Regions from separate parts of the Homo sapiens genome. Here regions 2 and 3 are each linked to region 1. Evidence: fine-mapped expression QTL. A gene starts in region 1. Each other region holds a variant in brackets. All regions are shown on one strand. Distances are from middle to middle.

What was found. PIP is the estimated chance that this variant, and not a neighbour inherited with it, causes the effect.
Region 2: its variant is fine-mapped to the expression of TPPP in spleen (GTEx, PIP 0.98).
Region 3: its variant is fine-mapped to the expression of TPPP in whole blood (TOPMed, PIP 0.97).

The regions. Positions count from the first base shown.
Region 1 is chr5:688,333-696,586 of GRCh38, forward strand. It overlaps TPPP (tubulin polymerization promoting protein), which reads right to left and starts at 5,020. Exons shown (of 4, transcript NM_007030.3): 1 at 4,946-5,020. It overlaps LOC101929898 (a long non-coding RNA gene), which reads left to right and starts at 5,208. Exons shown (of 2, transcript XR_925675.4): 1 at 5,208-5,390; 2 at 5,749-8,254. RefSeq lists enhancers at 4,446-5,028, 5,942-6,820 and a silencer at 5,023-5,272.
Region 2 is chr5:749,087-757,340 of GRCh38, forward strand. It overlaps ZDHHC11B (zDHHC palmitoyltransferase 11B (putative)), which reads right to left. Exons shown (of 14, transcript NM_001351303.2): 5 at 6,880-7,058; 6 at 5,912-6,013; 7 at 2,047-2,171. Among named protein-coding and RNA genes, the nearest start is that of ZDHHC11B, 32 kb to the right of the region's middle. RefSeq lists a silencer at 2,861-3,051 and enhancers at 4,414-4,913, 5,047-5,126, 5,237-5,316, 5,337-5,386. The variant A/AC (reference allele first, on the strand shown) is at 4,731.
Region 3 is chr5:866,428-874,427 of GRCh38, forward strand. It overlaps BRD9 (bromodomain containing 9), which reads right to left. Exons shown (of 16, transcript NM_023924.5): 13 at 5,099-5,137; 14 at 4,046-4,148. Among named protein-coding and RNA genes, the nearest start is that of ZDHHC11, 19 kb to the left of the region's middle. The variant A/G (reference allele first, on the strand shown) is at 3,434.

The sequences.
Region 1 (8,254 bases):
GTGGGCGGCGCTGAGCACGAGCACCTGGGGCTCCTCGACGCAGTGTGGACGGACCACTCGCGCACAGTATTGATCCACGTTAGCCAGCACAGCAGTGTGCCCACCACGTGGCTTCTGGTTAAAGGTTAAAAACAGGCAAAGCCAAAGCACAGTGCTCAGGAATTGCAGCTTCGACGGGAAAACGGACGGTGAGTAAGACCCCATCCCACTCCCGGAACACGAAGAGAGGCGGCCCAGAACGGCTGGCACTAGAACTGCAGGTGGACTGTGCCAGGTGCCAGGTGGGGCCCTCCCAGCAGGCGGCCTGGGGACACGTGGGCACTGACGAAGGTGGCAGGAACAAGCCTGGTGGGAGGTGAGGCTGAGATGAGCTTCACCCCAGTGGCTCTGTCCATGGCCCAGGCTCCTCAGGCACTGAGAAGGCAGAGGTGCCACCCCGCCGAGGGGCAGAGAAAACCGGCCCTTGGGCAGCCTTAGGAGAAGCGGGGGCCGGTGTGCGCAGGAGAGGGTGGACGCCCCAGATGCAGCCACGGTGGCCAGGTCACCTGCGAGATGCCATGGGTGGGAGATGCAGGTGGCTGTGCAGCGGTGCCCTGGGCTCAGGGGGAGGGGCTGGGTCAGGTCCCCGGGGCTGGCTGGGGCCTGGACATGGCTCCCTGGCCCTGAGGCACCAGCAGCACTTCTGAGTGGGGTGGGACTGGCCTGGTGTGTTTCTGGGCGGGGATCCAGTGTGAGTGGGTGAACAGTGAGTGGCAGCCATGGGCACGCTGAGGTACGCACACTTCACCCACCTCTGTGGGCCAGGAAGGCATGTCACATACTCCTGACAAGGCAGAGGGTGCTGGGAGCTCGCCTGTGTCAGACATGAGGGCCCTTGGACCAGGGCCTGGGTTTGAAGCCACCTCCATACCCCATACACGGTGCTCACTGCTCCTGGCCCCATTGACTGATGACTGATGGCCAGAGGGGGACAGCAGCTGTGTGAAGTCGCCTGGCAGGTGCGGCTGTTGGTGGCACTCCCTGGGCGGAGGCCACGTTGGACATTTGTGAACAAACGAGCAGGTTGGGGTTACAGGTTATAGGATCTGGGAAATGTGGTCTGTGATGCCATGCGCCCTGGGGGATCTCATGGAGCCCACATGGGCAGGCACCTTTTATCATGCCAAGAAGTCAAACGTGGGATGCCATGTGGGGAACATGCCCTGGGTGGGGGAATACCCTGGGTGGAGATGCCATGTGGGGAGGATGCTCTGGGTGGGGAATCTTTGTGGGGGTTGTCCTGGGTGGTGGAGCCTTGGTGAAGGAATGGCCTAGGGGGTGGCTCTGGGAGGGGGTGGCTCTGGGATGTGGATGTCCTGGGAGGGGGATGTCACCTTAGGGGGAAAGCCTGTTGCAGATGCCCTAGGAGGGAAGCCCTGTGTGAGAGATCATCTGGGTGGGGGCTGCCCCGGGTGGGGGATCATCTGAGTGGGGGCTGCCCTGGGTGGGGGATGTCCCCGGTGGGGGATCATCCAGGTGGCAGATCATCTGGGTGGGGGATCATCTGGGTGGGGGATCATCTGGGTGGAGGATCATCTGGGTGGGGGATCAACTGGGTGGGGGCTGCCCTGGGTGGGGGCTGCCCTGGGTGGAAGATCTTATCAGGGGGATGCAGTGGGTTATGGCCCTGTGGCAACCCCAAACACACACACACCAAGAAGAAGCTGGTCTCCCTAGGAGGAGGATCCACGCAGGGCAGCTTGGGGTTTGGCTCGTGGATGCTGGGGACAAGGCCTGAGCCCCAGATGTGGCTGGGCCTGACCCAGGCAGCTCCACCCCTTCCTTCCCAGGAAACACCTTTTGCTCGAGCAGTAGGAACTAGGCGTGTGTAGATTCTGCTGCCTGATCCTGGCTCCTGGCTGAGGGTTTGTGGGCTCAGATGGACTAGACACCCGGCCACAACCCTCCTGGGCATAGCCTTCTGGCTCCCCCAGCCCAGGCGGAGGCATTGAGCGACTCTCCTCACCCAGAGTGTTTTCCCGAAGGCGCTTCTGCCTGAGGGCACCAGGCTGGGCCAGGTACTGCAGGGCGCTGACCAGCACTGGCCTGGGGGCCCCAAGAGCCCCAGATGGCATCCCTCTCACACACTCCCCCTGTCTCACCAACAGCTATAAATAGACTCGGCTCTCTGCTGGCACGGCCTCTCCCGAGGAAGCTTTTAATTCTCTGCGTCCTCTGCAGGGGGTGGCTCCCACAGGCCTGGGAGGGAACAGACTGCCTGACTCTCCAGAGAGCTCCCCAGTCTCCATCTGCGATGGGTGATCCTAATTTTCTTCAGGAAGTTCTCCTGAGCCCTGCGTGTGGCGCTTTGGCCTTTGTGCCCACGGAAGCCCCCTGCGGCCCCTCCCTCCGGGCCCTGCCCAGCCCGGTGCACGAACCCTGTTTACCGATTCCCAGGCCTAGGGCAGCCACTGCCAGTGTGAGGCTTGCAAATTAGGGTAGGGGGTCAAAAGGAAGCCCCTGTTGACCATTTCTGTGAGCATTCTATGCTCATTTCCACAACGAGCATTTATAACCTCGTATAATCGCTAAAACATTTATTGCAACTTCAGGGAATTCGGGAAGATAGACCAACCGCAGCTGTAAGATTAAAACGCAGCCAGTGACCAGCGGAGCTTCCTCCACGCACACGCGGTCCAATCCCCATGACTTCATGTTTTGTGAAGATGCAAAGCGAGTTCATGCCGGCGCCTTTCTGAATCAGAGATCCGTTTAGAAACCATGAAAGCTGCAGACCCCTCCCGGGAAAACGCACACACCCTCCTGGAGCTCGCCTTCTGCAGCCGCTCCGGGAGCCCGCCCCTCCCCCACAGGCCCTCCGAGGATCACGTGGTGGGGAGGCGCTGGCACCGAGCGGCTGACAGGCGCGAGAGCCCAGTTCAAGGCGGCGGCATCAGGCTGCAGCTGCCTCACTCCCCTCCACTTCCTGCCCCTTCCCGGCCTTGGTCCAGCCCCATCTCCTAGTCCCAGGCCACAGGGAGCTGGGTCACCTCCCAGGGGCAGGGGCTGGCTGGGCGTGGGGGGAGACCTCTCCCCCTGAGAAGTCAGGCGGGGAGGGGTGGCCGGGGTGGGCGGAGGGGCCCAGTCCTCTATCGGTCCCCCAGGGGCCCTGCAAGCAGAAGAGCCAATAAACATGCCAGGTGGATCAGCGGTGACACTGAGAGGGAACGCAACACCCCATCAAAACAGCAGCCCCCCAACCCCCATCAAAACAATAGCCCCCAACCCCCATCAAAACAGCAGCCCCCAAACCCCATCAAAACAGCAGCCCCCAACCCCCATCAAAACAGCAGCCCCCAAATACCCATCAAAACAGCAGCCCCCCAAACCCCATCAAAACAATAGCCCCCAACCCCCATCAAAACAGCAGCCCCCAACCCCCATCAAAACAGCAGCCCCCAAATACCCATCAAAACAGCCCCCAACCCTCATCAAAACAGCAGCCCTCAACCCCCATCAAAACAGCAGCCCTCAACCCCCATCAAAACAGCAGCCCCCTAAACCCCCATCAAAACAGCAGCCCCCCAAACCCCCATCAAGACAACAGCCCCCCCAACCCGTATCAAAACAGCAGCCCCCAACCCCTCATCAAAACAGCAGCCCCCAGACCCCATCAAAACAGCAGCCCCCCAACCCCTATCAAAACAGCAGCCTCCCAACCCCTATCAAAACAGCAGCCCCCAACCCCCTATCAAAACAGCAGCCCCCCTAAGCCCCCATCAAGACAGCAGCCTCCCAACCCCACATCAAAACAGCAGCCCCCCAGACCCCATCAAAACAGCAGCCCCCAACCACCTATCAAAACAGCAGCCCCCAACCCCTATCAAAACAGCAGCCCCCCAACCCCCTATCAAAACAGTAGCCTCCCAACCACCTATCAAAACAGCAGCCTCCCAACCCCCTATCAAAACAGCAGCCCCCAAACCCCTATCAAAACTGCAGCTCCCAACCCCCTATCAAAACAGCAGTCCCCCAACCCTATCAAAACAGCAGCCCTCCAACCCCCTATCAAAACAGCAGCCCCCCAAACCCCTATCAAAACAGCAGCCCCCAACCCCGTATCAAAATAGCAGCCTCCCAACCCCTATCAAAACAGCAGCCCCCCAAACCCCCATCAAGACAACAGCCCCCCCAAAACCCTTATCAAAACAGCAGCCCCGCCACTGCCCGGGAGGGACAGGCTTCTCACCTCCCTCGGCTCCGTTTACGTAACCGAAACCGCAGAATAAAGGGCTCCTCAGATCTTCGGGCGCTGCTCCCAGGGGTGCGGGAAGGTGTCCCGGCAGCGCCTCTCCATCGCCACAGGCCCGCGGACAGTAGCCAAGACCCGGGGCAGCTGGAGGCTCTGCGGGGGGCGGTCTGACAGCCCCACCTGCCAGGACGCGGTGGTGTCAGGACCCTGAGATGGGCCGTTTCTGTGGCCAGGGATCTCTCAAAACCTGCTGCGGGCAGTGACTTCATTCCAGCCCTCCACGCCCTAATTTCCCACGCCTCACACCGGCGGCCCCCTAGGCCTGGGAATAGGGAAACGGTTCGAGTCCCGAGCTGGGGAGGGTCTGGAGGGAAGGGCTGCAGGGGCGTCCGTGGCCGCGAAGAAAGGCCAAAGCGCCAGGCACAGGGCCCGGAGACGGTGACAGACCTGTCCCTGGCGCGGCCGACGGTGACCCCCGCTCGCGGCCTTTGCAAAGCCTCCCCGTCGCGTCCTCGCACCGAGCCCGCAGCGCCGAACTCCGGGCATCCCAATCCGGGGGCTCAGGGACGCGCGGGGCGGTCCGGGAAGGGGGCTCGGGGGAGCGCGGGGGGCAGGGGCTGCGGCGCAGGTGGCTGCTGGGGCTGACGGGCCCAGTCTCCGCCCCCGGGTGCCCCCCGCGCCGCGCCCGCGGGACCGAGCCCCGCGCCCGCTTACCTTGGAGACGCAGCGACTGCAGCGGAGGCGCCTCCGCGACTCGGCCGCGCGCGACCCGGTGCTCAGCGGAGCTCTCCAGCCGCCGCCCCGCGCCCGCCCGTCCCGCCCAGCACCGCCCAGCCCCGCCCAGCCCGGTCCCGGGCCCGCCCCCGGCCCCCAGCGTCCGGCGCCCGCCCAGCGTCCCGCCCCGCGCGCTCATTGGCAGCCCCGCCCCCGCCGCCCCACCCGGCCCGGGGACGCGCGGGCGCACCGAGACCTCTGCCTTACAAGGCCGACTCTGCTCAGGCCCCGCGGACCGCCGGGTATCCGCTCAGCGCAGGGCGCGGCCGACCCGCGGGTCGTGGGAACCGCTGGGCAGGGGGCGGCGGGGCCCCTCACCTGGCTCTGGGGCCCCCCGGGGACGACCGGACCCCGATCTCTCCGCCCCGCAGGACGCGCGTTGACGGTGCGGCGGGGGATGGATGAGCGCGGCCGCGGCCTCCTGGGGTGGGGTGGGTTGGCGGCGGGGCCTCGAGGACGGTGCGGGGCGAGCCCCGACCGCGCCCAGTTCTTTAAGGAGCCGCAGACGGTGCAGGGAAGCGGCAGGGCCGGGCTGTGAGGGTGCTCGGACCCCAAGGCGGGGCGCACCCAGGGGACTGGGCTTCCAGGTGGGGGCAGCGCGGCCGGGGATCGACCTGAGCAGGGAGACGGGTCCGTGCCGGGCGCCCAGCGCAGCTGCTCGGGAGTGGGCCGCCCTTCACGCAGGAGTGGAGGAGCGGAGCGCGCACCCCTGACCCCGGCCTCAGCTTCCGTTCTCCCTGCAGGTCGCCCGTATGCAGCGCCACCATCCCGGCCGCTCTTCCAATCTCGCCTTTCTCCGGGCACCTGCCGCCCCTCCCCCGCTCCCCAGACAGGCTTTGCGGAGGGGGCTCATTCCGCCCGGGGCTGCCCGGCCCTCCGCAGGAGTTGGCTCCCCACAAGGTTCCGGGGCCGAGATGACAGGGCGGTTCTGTGGTGCTGGGTGCTGGGACTTGAGGGGCATAGGGGCACCTGCCCTGGAGGAGGCCGAGGCGCAGCCCCCCAGGAGGAAGGGGTGCCTCTGGTGACTTTCAGCTGGACTCTTCCAGCTGGACTCTAGTGCAGCTGAGCTCCTCCCCCAGCCCCGGCTCTGTCCCTGCACCAGGTGTCCAGCAGGCCCTGGAATCCGCAAAGGCAGAAGGGGAAGTTGGGGTGCTGGGTGCTGGGCAGGGGGTGCTGAGGCCTCACAGCCCGGCGGCTTGGCCCCCACCCACCCCACGGTGGTCCCGCGCCCCACACTTCCTCTCCTCTCCTGTGGTTTCTCCTTCCACTCAGTGCTGCCCAGAGATGGGCTTCTGTCTAGTTCTCCTGAGAAATTCCACACTCGCAGCTGGGAAGTCGGGGGACCCCCGAAGCTGTGCGGCGGCCACGCTGCGGCTCCTGCTTCCCTCCTGCTCGGGTGCGGGCTCGGCTGCCTTCTCGTCCCGCGGAGCCCGGAGTGCCTCCCCCTCGGGTAGATCCTACTAACAGCATCAAAGAAATAATGAAATAATCTCTCCTTGGTGTGTTCTTACCGTCCTAATAGGCACAAGGGGACTCTTCAGTGCATTTTCCAAAACCTGTACAAACTCTCTTGACATAAATGCAGTGAGTTTACAATAAAATCGCAGTGGGAGGTAACGTCAGGCTTCAGAGGCAGACATGGTCCTGGAGCCTTTGGGAGGAGAGGAGAGGAGAGGCAGCGGGCGCGGGGCGGCGTCCAGGGGGCTGAGCGAGGTCTGGGCAGGAGGACAGAGCTGAGCCTTGGGCTGCCCTGGCCCCTGCGCAGGACACACAGTGACCGGGGCTGGGGTGGGCACCCCGGTTCTACCGTCGGGAGTCGGCGTGTTCATGGAGTCTGTTTCCTTGTCTGTGGGTGAAACTTTGGCTTGGGGTCACGGGTGTGTTATTTCCCAGCGACAGTCGGTTCAGTCAGCACTTACAAAATCACCAGAAACAGGGGCACAGGATCTTGCTCAGCAGGGAGAGGTGGATCCTGATTCGGGACTCCAGGCTCTTCACCTGGCCATGGCTGCCCGTCCGGTGGCCCTTCCTGGCCCCCAGCTCTTGCTCCACTGCCAGACCTGGACAGCCTCCATTAACCCTGCAATTACTGAAAACCGACTCACAGCCAATGATGTGATCCACGCCAAGTGTCCCGTTATAAGATGTTTCCTGGGGATCCTTAGAAAATCACTACAAATGGGTTGAACAACAGGGCTTTCCTCTTACGGCTTAGGAGGCCAGAAGTCCGAGATCAAGGCCTGTGCGCTCCGGAGGTTCCCACCTCTTCCAGCTTCTGTGGCTCCAGGCGGTCCTGGGTGGTGGCCGCATGGCTCCACCTCTGCCCCTGTCCTCACGGGGCCTCCTCCCCCGAGTTAGTGTGTCTGTCTCTTCCTTTGCTTATCGGGACACCTGTCACTGGATTTAAGGGCCGCCAGGAGAAGCTGGGATAATCTCAAGATCTTTAATCGAATTACATCTACAAAGATCCTATTTTAACGTAAGGTCTTACTCTGAGGTTCCGGGTCAATGTGACTTTCTTGGGTGGGGGTCACTACCACCCCAGCACCAATGCTTTTCCCAGCTCCACCTGTGTTACCGTGTCAGTGACCAGGAGCGTTCCCCGGGACACCTGCCTGCTTGTAGCTGTTTCCACGGCTTCCTGCACAGGTTCTGCGTCCGCAGTTGGGAGCACCAGGCCAGGCAGCTGTCACATAGGAGGAGGACAGCTCTCCGGGACAAGCCCCTGCTGCCTGGCACCCGCGCCCACCCCTGCCTGGGTTTGGGGTTGGGTTTTGTGGGTAGAGGTTCAGGCTGACAGTGGAGGTTGGGAAGAGCAGACACAGCATGGTGGGTAGCACTGGAAGCCCTGGGTGGAAGGGATGGTGGGAGATGCTGGGCCATCTGGGTCTGCAGTGGGAGACCAGGACAGGAGCCCAGGTCCATTGGGAGGCCCCATGCTGAAGACAGAGGCACGGGGAGCGGGGGGAGCAATGGACTCACGCGGACAGCAGCAGACATGAAAAGGCCTCCGAGGCCAAGTGTGAGGATGCCGGGTCCCAGCACTGAGGTGTCCTGCAGCTGGACCTGTCAGGTGTCCACCCACCCCTGGCAGCTGAATGTCCTTTGACGGCCTATAGGCTGAGCAGCTTCTTTGGGCCCCGTAGGGGTGTGTCCCACAGCAGGTGAGCAGTCAGGGCCCCTTGAGAACCCTAACCAGCTCCTGTGTGGGCCCTGGGCTGGGGACAAGCTACAGCCTAGGTGCATGAG
Region 2 (8,254 bases), 61 kb after region 1:
GTCACAGCACCCACCCCTTCCTCACTAAGTACCAGGGTCACAGCGCCTGCTGGCTCTGCCGAGTCCCAGCATCCATCCCTTCCTCATGGCCCACGCTGTGTCCCTGGACCCTCTGCACCCTAAAACAGCCGCCTTCAAATAGAACAGGAAAGCCACAGCTCTCACCTGGGGTCATTTCTAAGATATGGTCCTCTGTGACACTGGGCTGCCAACACTCAAAACCACAACACTTCCAAAAATCAGGCGTAATGCAGAATGGCAGAGGGCCAGGCAAGGCAGAATGGCAGAGGGTCGGGCAAGGCAGAATGGCAGAGGGTTGGATTCAGTGTGGATGTCTTTGGGTGACGGACCCTCTCTGGAACTGGCGGCCTTGGGGGCCTTCCTAGATGGCCCGACGGGACAGTAGCTCAAAGTGCCTGGGCCGGGCTGGACCCCATGCTGCCCCCCTTAGCCAGTGACATCACGATGAGTTCAGCCCATGAGAACAAGGAGCTGCTTTGCTCAGGGCCTTGCTGGTTTTGAAGCCCTGCAGAATCATCTGGAACAGCAAACGGAGGAATTCGCTCAGGCCACAATCAATGAACTCACACAAAGACACTGGCACTGCCGTGTGGAAGCAGCATGTTCCAGGAGAGAAGGCAGCACATGCCATCTTGGCCACCTCTGCTCTCTCACTCTCCCCTGGCATCCCCCACAGGGAGAGCCCAGACAACATGGAGGCTGCTGGGGAAGGTGACTTGCTACAGGGGGAGAAGAACGCAACAGGCATCGTCCTGGGCTTGGGTCCGCTGAGGTCAGGGCCTCGCCAGGGTGGAGCTGGCTTTCAGGAAGTGCTTCAGAAGCGGCTGTGAGGCCCTGGAGGCATCAGTCACGCTTCGAAGTGGAAGGAGGAGCTTTAGGGACTTCCACGTGGAGCTGGCAAAGCTCATCCTTGAAAAAAATGTCACACCGTGTTGGCTCCGGAATGTTCTGGAACAAGGGCAGGCAAGTCCTCCCTGTCTCACCACCCGGGCTGTGTGCAGTGCGGGTGCAGCCATGCCTGGAGCTGAGACTGGCAGTCTTGTCCTGCACCCCGAGGGGCTTCTCTGGCCCAGGTCCTCCTGGTCAGGGTCCTGGCGCTGCTGCAATAAATACATCAAATGGTGGCGGGTGGGGGCAGCTTCTCCAGCAGACTCTTGCAGTCTGAGGCAGGCAGGGCTCTGACGTCCAGCTGCAGGACAGTTGAGCGCGCTGCCTCCGCAGGGTCCAGGGAGGTCCTCCCACCTCTGCGAGCTCCTGTGGCTCCGGGCGACCCCGGGCTGTGGCTGTGTGACTCCACCCCTGCCTCCATCCTCACGAGGCCCCCTCCCCTCTGCGTCTCTCCTTTCTCTTACAAGCACACTCGTGGCTAGATTTGGGCTCCCTGGGACATCCCAGCATGACCCTCCCACCTCAGATATTAAGTCACAGCCGCAGGCCCATTTCCCGAGGATGCTGGCATCACGGGATCTGGGTTAGGCGTGGACTCGCCTCTGGAGCCCACAGTCCTCACCGCCACGTCTCTCCAGTGGCTCAGTGTGAGCATTGGTTCCCGAGGCCCAGGCTCCGGGCCCACTTGGCCAAGGGCCTCAGCACACCGCAGCCTACAGCCCAGCACCCTCAGCGCTGCCTCCACTCTCCCTCCCCATGGGCTGCTCCTGCAGGATGGGCACCCCCACCCTCCCACAGCTACATGGCCCCACAGGATGGTGTGACAGGTGCTACAGGGCTGACTGCGGAGGGCAGGGGCAGAGGTGGACCCCACTGTCTCTCGCCTGACACGACCTGGCAGCATCTACAGAGCAGCGTGGCCAGCGCCCTCCCCGAGCCTGCCTCCCGCGCGCTGGGGGCTGCTGGGCTGTATGAACACTGGGCTGCTGCCGTCGGGCCAGGTCAGAGCCTGCATGGGGCTGCCTGCCCCGGCCTCTCCCTGGGACAAGAGGGGCCGACCACCCCAGACCCGATACTACCGCCCGGAAAGACGGCTGGAGGCGAGGATGAGGCCCCTTGAGAGCGGCGGCCACGTACCTTCATACCTGGGGTCCGTGCGGAGCACCCTGGGGTTCACGAGGTACTGGACGAGGACATACAGCAGGATGGCGATCAGGCAGAGCATGCCAGCTGTGGCCGAGGCCACAGTGCTGAAGAAGAACCTGCCGGGAGACACACAGGCAGGCATGGGGGTGGGGACGTGGGAGCAGTGGGGGCGCAGGGGCAGGTGTGGGGGGCACGGGGGCAGGGGGTGTGCACAGGGTGGGCAGGGGCGGGCGTGGGGGGCACAGCGGCAGGGGGCACGCAAGGGCAGGTGTGGGACAGGTGTGGGGGCGGGGAGGCAGGGGCAGGGACACGCAGGGCATCTGAGGCAGGGGCGGGGGCATGCAGGGCAGGTGGGGGGTGCAGAGGCAGGGGCAGGGACACGCAGGGCATCTGGGGCAGGGGTGGGGGCATGCAGGGCAGGTGGGGGGTGCAGAGGCAGGGATGGGGACGCGCAGGGCATCTGGAGCCCGCAGGGTGGAGGTGACAGGTCAGCGTGGGCGTCCACTTGAGAGAGGGCTCCTGGCCACTGCCCGATGCTGGCCTCAAACCCTGCTCCCGACCATGCCTGGAAGCTCAGGCTCCTGTCTCTGTGCCATCCTGTGACGCCCCCCCAGGTCTCCAGGCCTCTCGCTGGAGAGGGGTGGCCGTGGGACATTCCCACCAGCACACCGCCTGACAATTCAGGCAGTGCTTCTTGCAAACGTGATTGCCTTTAATCCCCACAAGGAACAATGAGGTTGTGAGGAGGGGGAACCAGCCCTTTTCACGAGTGGGGAAAGTGAGGTCAGAGATGCGGTGCGACTCGCCCAAGCCTACCAGCGGAGCATGAGGGTCACACGGCGTCTCCAGTGTCACAGCTCTGGGGCCTCTGCCCGCACCTCCCGACTCCACCTGATGCAGACAGGCCTCCCTACCAGCCAAGGAGCACGCAGGCTGGGTCCCCTCAGGGGGCCCTGAGCATGGTCTGTGCTGGGGTCTCCATGGCACCATGCTGGGCAAAGGCACTGAAGCCAGGGAAGGGGAGAGCCATGAGAGTGCCGTGGCACCCAGGAGGGCCTGCAGGCTCAGGGACCTGGATCTCTGCACCCAAAGGGAACTCAGGCTGAGGAGGCCCTGGAGGAGCCCGGCCACACCTCGGCTGCAGTCCCCCCTTCTCCAAGGGTCTTGTGCAAATCTGAGCCAAAAGCGATGTCCATGCTGTAGACCTGAGACCAAATCCACTCCCAGTCTCTCGTCTTTGCTCAAAAGATGCAGAGAATAATCCATCCAGAAAAACCAATTCTGGGCAGCAGTTCCTGGAACACACTTTGACTAAACCATCTTCCCTTGGTCTTTCTGCCATGATGATATTTTTTTTAAAGTATCCTTTAACCTCCTTTAATCCTTTCCATTGTATTATGTTCACCTAAGCTTGTTTAAATCCCTTTTTCTATTTTCAACTGGAGGCCAGAGCATGAATGCCGCAGTCGTCCGAAGACGCAGTTAGGGCACAGCTGCCTTCCCCGCGCTCCTCCTCCCTCCAAGAGTCTTCTGGATAATCCAGGGGTGAGGGGTGGCTCCGGGCGTGAGCGGCTCCCTGACTGCTGCTCCCTCATACTGCCTTCCCTCTCACAGCTTAGGTTTCCCAAGCAGCAGCCCCTCCAGGCAGTGGACACGCCCTACCCTGCCCCCAGTCCTCCTGGGCTCGAGCCCACTTGTGGGGAGTAAAGACCCCTCATCCTCATCCTACTGTCTGGAGAGGACTCCCCTCTTCATCCAGGAAAGAAGGCGGGTCTCTAAGACCACAGAGACCAGAGACCACAGAGACCAAAGCCCACAGGATGGGGCAGACCCATTCACGCGGGGCCTCCTCTCCCCGCAGCCACCCAGGGACATTCTCCTCTTGGTTAGCACAGCCTCCTGCCCCTGCTGCCTGTGTTTAACCTGCAGAGTCCGAGGCCAGCGCTCGCAGTCTTCCCAGGACACCAGCGCCGCCTGCCTTCTTTCCGTCCCCCTTCCTCTCTTATCACTACGAAGTATGCAGCCTCCCTCACAGGGGCTCTGCCATCAGCTGGGCCTCCCCATGGGGGCTCCGCCATCAGCTCGGCCTCCCTCGCGGGGGCTCTGCCATCAGCTCCTCAACTTTCCTCATCTTGCTCTCAATGCCGTTGCTCTCTCCGCCTCTGGCGGATGAAGGGACAGAAGCGAGGTTGGCACAGATGCCGGCGTTGGCTGCTGCCTGGAGCTGAGGGCGCCCATGACCCCGGCCCTGCTCTCCTGATGCCCCTTTCCCACACACAGGCGGTGTCTACACTTGGCACCCACGTGGTCCCTCTCCAGCACCCCTCCTGAGGAAGGCAGACCCTCTCCTTGCCACCTGCCTGTGGGCCCTCACCCCCTCACCTTCCCCACCAGGACCCGCCAGATTGAGCCAGCTCGAGGCACCAGAGCAGAATGAGTCCAGAAGGAAGTGGCACCTGGGGCTAGCATGAGCCAGAGGAGCTGGCCCCACCTTGGCCATCGTGGAGCTGCTCTTCTCCAGGGGAGGAGGCGGGTGGGTCTCCCCGGCCCCTACCATCTCACGCAGCCTCTGGACTCGCTGTGCGGTCATGCAACCTCTCTGTCCCTGCCGGGCTGCTCAGCCTCTCTGGACACATGCTGTGCTCCAGACGGGATGGCAGGGAGGCAGGGCAGGG[A/AC]CCCCCCGGTGCGTCCTGTGACACCAGGCAACGTTGGTCCCCACTCCCACGCACACCAAGGCCTCTTTCAGGTCAGCACAGAGTAGCTGGGGAGCAGGCGTGGTTCTTTTCCCTGGTGATCTTCACAATACAGTGCTGCAGACAGCCGGGGCTCAGCACACGGGGCCTTGAGAGTCCCTGGATCCTCCACTGTGCTCAGGGGAAACACCTCTCATCTATGAGCCTCCACCGTGCTCAGGGGAAACAACCTCTCGTTCTTGAGCCTCCACCGTGCTCAGGGGAAACACGTCTCATCTATGAGTCTCCACTGTGCTCAGGGGAAACACCTCTCATCTATGAGCCTCCACCATGCTCAGGGGAAACATCTCTCGTCTATGAGCCTCCACCATGCTCAGGGGAAACACGTCTCATCTATGAGCCTCCACCGTGCTCAGGGGAAACACCTCTCGTCTATGAGCCTCCACCGTGCTCAGGGGAAACACCTCTCGCCTATGAGCCTCCACCACGCTCAGGGGAAAGACCTCTCATCTGTGAGCCTCCACCGTGATCAGGGGAAACACCTCTCATCCTTGTGCCTCCACCATGCTCAGGAGAAACACCTCTCGCCTGTGAGCCTCCACCATGCTCAGGGGAAAGACCTCTCGCCTGTGAGCCTCCACCGTGCTCAGGGAAACATCTCTCTTCCTTGCATCTCCACCGTGCTCAGGGGAAACACCTCTCGTCTATGAGCCTCCACCGTGCTCAGGGGAAACACCTCTCATCTGTGAGCCTCCACCATGCTCAGGGGAAACACCTCTCGTCCATCTGCGCTGGGTGCCCACTGCCCTTCCGTGGCCCCACCCTTGTGCTGGATGAGCCTCAGCCTGGGTGGAGAGAAGGCAGCCCAGCCCAGGACAGCGTGGTCAGGAGGCCTCAGCCAGCGTGGCCCCGCAAGTGCCCCCGGGGGGCCTCCAGGGACTTACTCTATGCGGATGAGCTTGTCCAGGGACGGCTGCACCACAGCCCCAGAGCCAGACAGGAGGCCGGGGCACGCAGGCACCAAGCGCCACCACATCAGGACAGGGACGTGGCCCCAAGAGGACCCTCCACCCTTTCAACACGAGGACCCCTGCCCACAGACCCCTCCCTTCCAAATTCCCCCAAGCCTGGCCCGTGCCGGCCATCCCCTCTGTGCCCCTCACCAATAATTCCGGCTTCCCACGCAGTTGTTGATCCATTTGCAGTGGTGGTCGAAGCCGGACACACACTTATTGCAGGAAATGCAGTGTTTGGTTTTCTTGTTCCTGGAGGGATGAATCGGGGAACGCCTGTCAGGCCCCAAGTGCGCAGGTTGGGGCAGGGCCAGAGGTCCATCACTGGAAGCCAGGTGCCTCGGAGGAACCAGCCCTGTGCGGCCTGGGGAGAGGGCGTCCAGCAGGGAATGGGAGGCTGGGGGAGGGTGTTGAGGCCTGTGGGGAGGAGGAGAAGCAGGGCAGCTGTGGGCAGAGGTAGCCACAGAGCAGGAGGAGCTGTGTCTGTGGCCGCCCTGAGCATAGACCCCCCGCCAGCCATCCTACACCAGCCTCACTCTGGGCCATGGCCCTGGAGGAGGCCGCGCCTGCCCCATGGTTCCAGGAGTTGAGGCCGGGGGCTTGGATCCCACCTGTGCCTACAGGGCCTCCCTTGCAGCTGACAACAGCCCTGTAGCCACCCCCTAGGCCATCACAGAGGCCTCCAGGGCCCCTGGAGACACTGGAACCCTTACCTCCCACTTTCCTAGGGGCTTGTCTTGAAACTCCCCAAGAAAGACAGTGCTCTCTTGCCCTGGGCCCTCAGGGGAGGGACCTCGTGCACAAAATCCACTGAGGACCAAACATGCCTGAGTGCTGCTGTGTTTCATTCCAGGGGAGCAGCGGGTCACCTGCAGGTGACAGACCCAGCCCTCCAGTCTCAGCCCTGCCTGCGGAGGAGTTGGGGCGGCCCGGCACCGCGCCCGGTTCACAGCGAGATGAGGGGCGATCCACCCGCAGCCACAGGGCCGGGCCCTGGAAGCTCCACTAGCATCAGCTGCGGCCATGGCACGGGCCCTGAGGGGCCAGCAGTGACCTGAGCACCAGGACCCTGGAGGTGACCCTGACACCTTGGGGCCTCGGCGAGGGCGGGCACTCACACGGTGACCTTGCACAGGTGGCAGAACTGATTCTGGATCACGTGTGCATGTTTTGATCTGTCGAAGAGGGGCATGGGCTGAGAATAGTTCTTCATGAGTCTGACATTGGAGTCGGCCGGGTCGATGCAGGACGCGATCAGGTGGACGACGAGGTGGAACGAGAAGATCCCCCCGGTCACCTGGCATGTCAAGGAAGAACCTGGCCCAGGGCCTGGTCAGCCTGGCATGAGGCGTCCCCGTGAGGCCCAAGGTCCCAGAAGAGGCGTGGCCACTGGTCAGCCCTGCTCACCCAGCCCTGCACACGTGAGCCCAGCTCACCCAGGCCTGGCCCTGCTCACATGGCCCTGCTTGTCCAGTCTTGCACACATGGCCCTATACACTTGGCCCTTCACACACAGCCCTGCTCACCCAGCCCCGTCCACTCGGCCCTGCACACACAGCCCTGCTCACCCAGGCCTAGAGAAGATGAGGCTACCCATCGGCCCTGCACACACAGCCCTGTGCCAGTCGGGGACCGGGAAGGCTGCCCCCATGCCCCTTTTGGTTCATCCCTGTTGGACACAGGGCAAATCCCCCACAGAATGTACCGCACCCCCAGAGGCTCAGTCAGCCCAGCCAAGCACAGTGACCCCAAAACCCTTTACAGCTTGAGGGACAGAGCAGGGCCACAGGAGGTACGCCCCAGGTGTAAACACAGCCGGATACAGCCCCAAAGGCCCTGGAGGAGCCTGGGTTCTTTCATACCAGAGACCCCTGAGCACTGGGAGAGAAGACAGCCTCAGACAGGAGGAGCAGGGGGAGGAGCGAGGGAGCTGCACAACCTACCCGCTCCCTCTAGACCCCAGACGGCTCACTGACGGACCCTCTCCCCGAGACTTGCTCAGGGAAACACCCCCTAGACTCATTCAGGGACCCCAGACTCATTCAGGGACTCCAGACTCTCTCAGGGAGCCCAGACTCACTCAGGGACCCTGGGCCTCTGTCTTGGGCCCTCTGGGCTCGGAGCCTGGCTGTGGGGGCACTGGGGAGAGGGTCCTTGTCCCCTGGAGCCAGGAGAAGCTGGGCTCCCCGTGACTGGAACGTCAGCTTCCGCCCTCAGATACTGGCTCCCTCCTCCTCTCACCCTGGGACAAACACAGACTCCCCATGGCAACCAAATAGAAGGGGTGGAGTGCGGGGCCCTCCCGTCACCCTGCCTGGCTCCTGGACCGCCTTCTAGCCATGAGTTCAGGGTTGACAGCCATCTCCACAGGGCAGCCCAGAGGCCCTCACAGTGTGGCCTAAGCTTGGCATGGAAACGCAGGCTGCCGGCCTGTGTCGCACAGCGCTGTCCTCCTTGGCCCCAGGGGTGAGGAAGAAGGTGCTGGCCATGTGC
Region 3 (8,000 bases), 180 kb after region 1:
GACATGCCCTGTAGAACTGGGTAATGAGCAGAGGCTAGAACAGCTGGGAGAACTTAAAGACAGGAAGATGAGGGAAAGTTTGGAACTACCTAGAGACTTCCTGCATGGCTATGATTCAAATGCTGATAGTGATATGGACAGTGAAATCCAGGCTGAGGTGGTCTCAGATGGAGACGAGGACCCCATTGGGAATGGGGGCAAAGGTCACTCTTGCTATTCTTTAGGAGAGACTGACAGCACTGTGACCCTGCTCTAGAAATCTGTGGAACTTTGAACTTGAGAGAGATGATTTAGGGCACCTGGTGGAAGAAATTTCTAAGCACTAAAGCATTCAAGAGGTGACTTGGCTGCTTCTAAAAGCCTATGCTCACTTGCACAAACAGAAAAATGACCTGAAACTGGAACTTATATTTAAAAGGGAAGCAGAGAGTAAAAGTTTGGAAAATTTGTACCCCTGCCATGTGGTAGAAAAGAAAAACCCATTTTCTGGGGAGGAATTCAAGAAGGCTGCAGACATTTGCGTAAGTAAAGAGGAGCCAAATGTTAATACCTCAGGGACATTTCAAAGACCTTTGCCCAGACACTGCCATCACAGGCCTGGGGGTCTAGGAGGGAAAAGGGCCCCACTACTCTGTGAAGCACTGGGACATGTGCCATGGTGCTCTGTGTCCCAGCCATGGCTAAAAGGGGCCAAGGTACAGGGCTAAAAGGGTCGATGCTTCAGAGGGTGCAAGCCCCAAGCCCTGGAAGCTTCCACATGGTGTTGGGTATGTGGGTAGGCAGAAGGCAAGAGCTGAGGTTTGGCAGCCTCCACCTAGATTTCAGAGGATGTATGGAAAAGCCAGGGTGTCCAGGCAGAAGTCTGCTGCAGGGGCAGGCCCTTCATGGAGAACCTCTGCTAGGGCAGTGCAGAGGGGAAATGTGAGGTTGGAGCCCTCACCCCACACAGAGTACCCACTGGGGCACTGCCTAGTGGAGCTGTGAGAAAAGGGCCACCGTCCTCCAGACCTCAGAATGGTAGATCCGACAGCTTGCACCATGCCATCTGGAAAAGCTGCAGGCACTCAACACCAGCCAGGGAAAGCAGCCACAGAGGCTGTACCCTGCAGAGCCACAAGGGCGGGGCTGCCCAAGGCCGTGGGAGCCCATCCCTTGCATCAGTGTAGCCTGGATGTGAGACAAGGAATCAAAGAAGATTCTTTCGGGGCCTCAAGATGTAATGACTGCCCTGCTGGGTTTCAGATTTGTAGCCTGCTGCCCCTTTGTTTTGGCTGATTTCTCCCTCTTGGGATAGGTCTATTTACCCAATGTCTGTACCCGATTTGTATCTTGGAATTAACTAACTTGTTTTGGATTTTACAGGCTCACAGGCAGAAGTAACTTGCCTTGTCTCAGATAAGACTTTGGACTGTGGACTTCTGAGTTAATGCTGGAATGAGTTAAGACTTTAGGGGACTGTTAGGAAGGCATGATTGTGTTTTGAAATGTGAAAAGGACAAAAGATTCGAGAGGAGTCAGGGGCAGAATGATACAGTTTGGCTCTGTATTCCTGCCCAAATCTCATGTTGAATTGTAATTCCCAATGTTAGGGGAGGGTCCTGGTGGAAGGTGATTGGATCATGGGGATGGATTTCCCCCTTGCTGTTCTCTGTTCTCATGATAGTGAGTGACTTCTCATGAGATCTGGTTGTTTCAAAGCACTTCCCCCTTTGCGTTCTCTCCTGCTCCGCCATGTGAAGACATGCATGTTTCTCCTTCATCTTCCGCCATGATTGGAAGTTTCCTGATGCCTCCCAGCCATGCCTCCCAAACAGCCTGAGGAACTGTGAGTCAATTAAACCTCTTTCCTTCACCAATGACCAGTCTCAGGTGGTTCTTTATAACAGTGTGAGGACAGACTAACACACCACAGCACATCAGCACCAAAGCCCATCAGCACCAAGCTGCTGAGAAGTAGTAATAAGGACAAAATCTTAGAAGTGCTGAGAAAAACAGCTGCTGTGCAGAAAAGTGCTGTCACAGCGGCCTGGGGCCAGGGTCCCCTGGAAGGCAAGGCCAGCCACGGCTGGCATCTGGGGTCCCCCCCAGTGCTAGGGATTGTTCACAGCTCCAACAACAGGAGCAGAGTGGTTTATGCTAAAGTTCACCTTCCCTCCGGGGTCTGGACTTTGGTACCTGCCTGGCAAGGGGGTGCCCTGTGACCCCGAGCACCAAGCCTCTGACGGGCTTCCCTGGTGGGCATTTCACGTGTGTTGTCACAGCTCACTCCTGGGAATTAAGCGTGTCCCATGTGCCTCTGCTGGGAGTGGATCTGGGCCTCACGCTGGGTTTCCTTGGATGTCACTCTTGTCCCTCTGCTGCTGTTGGCACCCTTCCCCTATAATAAATCACGGCCATAAGTGCCTGAACAGAGCCAGCAGAGACAGGTGGAACGTCACCACGCAAAGCAGTGGGACCCATGGATCCAGGCACCACAAATGCTGCTGGAGGTCAGAACAGCTCGGGGGCGCTGCACCGGCAGCCTCCCAGGTGAGGGCACAGTCTCCAGGATGGCCCCACCGGCTGATGCCAACTGAAAGCCCCAGGCTGTGGTCTGTGCTTCCGACTAACCAGCTATCAAATGGGGTTCCCAGAAGACCAGACTTGAGCTCTATGAATTTCCTAGAGTGACTCACAGAAGTCAGGGAAACATCTGTAAATGAAAAATAAAATTCTAAGCCCCATGGACTGAACGGATTCCCACTCTTGGCCAAGGGCACTCCAAAGTCAACCTGGAAAATGAGGTCAGGCCATGATGTGAAGCGGGACTGGACTTGCCTCATTATCCCCTCTTTTGGAATTCAGGCACAGCTGACCAGCATTAACTTTAAAACAGAAATCTGAAGGTTGACAAAGCAGACTCCGTGGTAATAAGACACCAAATTCCGATCCGACTTTAGTACAGCATCACGTGATAGATGGCAGGCCCTGAAAGAAACTGAGTATTTTATCTCAAAATATATCCCTTTGACATATTTTGAAATAGCCCTGCAAAGCTGTATCTTGTGGGAAAAATCTACATTCTGTAGAGAATCTCCTGCCCCTTCCAAGTCTCTTCCTGACCCAACAGAGATTTAACTAACAATCTGGTACCTTTGAGGGCCTCATGAGTGATGTTTGCCATCTACTCTACTCTTTTTGAAGCCTGCTACCTGAAGGCTGAATTCATCTATGTGACAAGAACCTTGGCTTCTACAACTGCTTATGTTAACCATGCACATTTCTTTCTGACTTCAGCTCTTCAGAGCTTAACCCTTTCAACCAAATGCCAATCAGGAAATCTCTGAATCCACCAACGACCCGACATTCCTCGCTTCAAGTTGTCCCGCCTTTCCAACACGAACCACTGTTACAACTGACATGTACTGACTGATGTCCTCTGTCTCCCTAAAAC[A/G]TATCAAAACAAGCTGCAGACCAGTCCTCCTCGGCAAATGTTCTTGGGACCTCCTGGGACTGTGTCACAGCCACGGTCTTCGTATTTCACTCAGAAGAAACCTCTCTAAATACCCTGCAGAGTTTGACTCTTCTGTCCACACACTAGGCTGACATTTACCCATTTATTCTGCGGGGTGTCACCCAGGGTACGGATGGGCCCCAGGTGGGAGCGATGCAGAGGGGACCCGTGGGAAGGGGCTGCCTTCTTCCCAGAGCCTCCAGGCGTCCAGCAATGAGGCTCCCTAGGGAACCCCACCTTTTGGGATTTCATGGAGGCGGTAGGCAACACTGATGAAATCCACAGCCACTGGGGATCGGCCAGACCCCATCCTGAGGTTACCCAGGGGCTGCAACCACTTCTCATTAGCTTAAAAAAGACACAACACTCAGGAGATTCCAAGGATTTTAGGAGCTATGGTCCAAAAACCTGGGACAAAGACCAAATACCGTAACAAAAGATTTTCCTGGCATCCCTGTCTAGTCAGGAAGGGAGAGGAGGTGGAGGCCGTGTGTTTTCTTCCTCTATCACACCTTCACCAGGTGCTGTGGGAAAGTGCCTGTTACAACTCACCCAGAGAGCTGAGCATGGAGATATCCACAGAAACGTCGGGATAGGACTTCATCGACATGAACTCCAGAACAGAGCTGCTGCTGTCTCCTAGGGTGTCCCCAACCTGTGGAGACAGACACACATCAAGAGCAATTCAAACATCAAACGAAAAACGAAATGTTACTTCACACTCGCTATTGAAATCACTCTAATTATTTGCTAAACGTGAACCCACCCCTCAGTAAGTGACAAGACCAAGCCCTGTTCACTGAGGCTGCTGTTCAAGGGACTGTCAGGTTGGAGCTCATGAATGGATATGCAAATCCATGTCAAAGAAAAACCTACTGAGACCAACAACGCAAACTAACAATCCTTTGTTAACTTTTTGGGGCTAAAGAAATTGGGGAGGGACATTATGCAACAGGAAGACACACAGAATTTTAGGGTCCAGGACTATTTCTCAGGCACTTCACAGAGCACACAACGTTCCCTTTCCTTTCCCAGCAAGGCGTGTCCTCAGGGCTAGACTACAGCCACCCTAACACATACTCTCTCATCAGCTCCCTGCAGCTCGGCCTCTGCCCTCAAACAGATGTTAAGGGGTCTCTCCAGGTTCCCAGGGACCCTGGACCAAAGCCCAAGCCCATGCCTGCTGACTGTCAGAGACACACACCTGCCAATCGGCAGGTGCAGCAGTCTGGGCTCACAGCACTGCCCTGCCAGCACTGGCCCCAGAGCCCACTGTGCTTGGGACAACACCTGCTACTCACCAAGCAGGTCCTGAGAAGGCCCATCCTGCCCAACCCTTGCAAGGGTGTCCCACAAGGACAGCACCCAGCGGGGCCAACTGCTCTGAAACTACCCATTTCTGGATTTGGAAGAATGTACTGCGGCTTCACACCACTCACCTCAAGTCATGAAAAGAGGAGGAGAAACACTATTGATCTTACTGATCAGAAACGGACTCCATTTCTAAACGCCGTCATACACACAGACCTCCCCACCTCAAAGGCTGGATACAACTTTCCCTGTGAGAATAATATTTGGCTTGCCCTTCCATGTTCAAAAACTTACCTTGGCTTCATCTGGAGGCTTCATGGGAACATTTCTTCTCTGAAAAGTAAATGAGGACAGAAACTAGTTTTTCCAGAGTGATTTCATAGAAACGGACAATTCGCTGACATTACACACACGTAAAAATGGCTTGTGCGCTTCTGCGAATTCTGCTCCCCAGTCACACCATCTTAATGGATTAAGGCTGGGGGTCCTCCAAACCTTCTTCATCACCAGTCACTGACCCAACCACGCCCAGCCCCCTCCTCAGCGCCAGGATTGTGTGCCGGGGACAGCGCTCCACAGGGCGAGATGGAGCGGACAGAGAGAGGACGCCGATGCTGTTTCGGCAGCCTTGGGTGGCTTAAAACAAAAGAAAAAAGATGTGCCTAGATCCTATGGGAAGCTTAGGATAAGAAGGGTCTCGTGGGTTCCACCTGGAATATGACCAGTTGCCTGAGACCAGCTCGAGTCCTGCAGGGGCAGGTGTGTGCAGGAGCAAAGGAGGCAGACACCTCCTGGCAGTGCCTGTGGCAGGTGGGCCTGCCGTGGGCGCAGGAGCGAAGGAGGCAGACACCTCCTGGCGGTGCCTGCAGCAGGTGGGCCGGGCCGTGCATTGTCTCCTTCCACAACTGTCGGCCTCCGTGGCACACCCGTCCTGTGCTCCGGTGGAGCGATGCTGTAGTATATGCACTCTATCATGTGTGATCTTTGTTCGAAATAATGTTTCTCAGATTCAATGACATCGATTTTCACAAGCTTTTAATTAGAAAATGAATACTGCTGTTTTGTTCGCATCTGTTTCCCCAAAAGCCTTCAGTCACTTTAGTCCTGAGCATCATTTACTGCGGGGGTGCACTCGGGGTCACTCAACTCCATATCCAAGTTCACTTTCCCGAAAGGAATCTAACTGGAACCCAGAGAGGAAACCACAGAGCCTTCCCATTTCCGGGCTGTGAGGGGGTCACTTTCCCTACCCCACAGCAATGCCTGATTCTAACGCTGTGTTGGGGGGGCCAGCTTCCTGCCTGGAAGGAGCCTGCAGGCCACGACACGGGAGGGTGACCAGAGCTCAGAGTCAGAACCACGAGCTGGTGGGGCAGGCTCTGCAGAGGGGGCTGCTCCTCAGAGCTGCAGAAATCTGCTTGGGGACTCCCGCCTGGCTGCAACCCTCTCTTCAGGGGCCTGCGAGCCCTCCAAGCATGGAAATCAAGGAAAATCTTGAGTTCCTTCAAGGGAAATTCCAGTTACTTAGATAACTCTGAGAAGTAAATCAGCGACTTGATAAGCAAGAAGGTAACAGTATCCTAAAACAACAGTCAAGGAAGGTGGAGACAGATGTTTGTTCCCTGTAGAAAGTAAAGACAACCTCCCAGCACTGTTCCCTGTAGAAAGAAAAGACAACATCCTACCACTCTGGGAGGCTGAGATGGATGCATCATTTGAGGTCAGGAGTTAAAGACCAGCCTGGCCAACATGGCGAAACTCCGCCTCTACTAAAAATACAAAAATTAGCCAGGTGTGGTGGCGCATGCCTGTAATCCCAGCTACTCGGGAGGCTGAGGCAGGAGAATCGCTAGAATCAGGGAGGCAGAGGTTGCAGTGAGCCACAATCACGCCACTGCACTCCAGCCTGGGTGACAGAGTGAGACTCTATGTCTCAAAAAGAAAAAAAAAGAAAGAAAGTAAAGATAACATCTTAATGTATATCCCTGAGTTGTCTTTCAGAAACCTGGACCCTCCACCTAGGACCTCCCCAACAAACTAATCTACTGGCATGAAGGGCTCAGATAAGGAGAAACTGAAGACTGAGCTCTGACCCCGTTCTTTGTTCTGAATTTCTTCCTGACGGGCCTGGAGGAAGCCACACCCACAAGCCTAAGCTAACATTCTTTTCTCTTCACCCCAAATTTTTAAACAAAGCTTCTCCTCCTTAACCAGCTGCAAATCAGAAAACCTTTGAATCCACCTATAACCTATAAGGCCCTGCTTGCAGATACCGCCCTTCTAGGCCAAGCCGACATGTAACCTCTGTGTCCTTATGCACGACTCTGCCTTTCAGTTCTGCTTTCCTGAGATCTACCCCCGCTTTACAAGCCTTGCCTGTAGCCAGTGGGGGAGGCCAGGATTTATACATGAGCCTCCTGGCCCACCTTGCTTGGCGCCCTGCAAATACACACGTCCTTTCTATGACAAAACCTCGGCATGGGTGTCTGGGTTTACTGCACCAGGCATGTGGACCCCAGTTCATCTGTAACAAGCACAGATGAAACCGTCAGGTCAAGGGACTGACCCCTCCTTGGGAGCCATGAGCCAAACGTTCTCAGAGCCTGGGAAGGACAGAGACTCATCCGAACTCCACCCACAGCAGAGACCACGCTGAAAAGACAGGGCTCCCCGAAGGGCCACTCCTTAGCATTAAGGCTACACGAACCCTAGAATAAGGCTGCCCTGGACCCACCCCAGACAAGCCTGGTAGGATCCGGCCATTATCCACAAGTAACAACTGCCAAAATGATCATCAGTATTCTCTGAAAGAGAGAAAGAACCCAGATCAGCCTTGCCCAGCAGACATAACGCGAGCACACGCCTCGTTCTAAATGTTTTTTTATCTTTTTTTTGAGACAGGGTCTTGCTCTATTGCCTAGAGTGCGGTGGTGCAATCGCACTGCAGCCTCGACCTCCCGGCCTCAAGTGATCCTCCCACCTTAGCCTCCTGTGGAGCTGATGACAGGTGCATGCCACCATACCCAGCTCTTAAAATTCTAGCTGCCACATTAAAATTACTCTTAACATTCAATTAACTAATGCATTTTACTTAGACAAATTTATTGAAGATGTTTTTATTCCAACATGTGGGCCATAAGAAATCGTTACTCATATTTTTACGTTTTTTGCATTAGTTTTTTAAGATCTAGTTTGT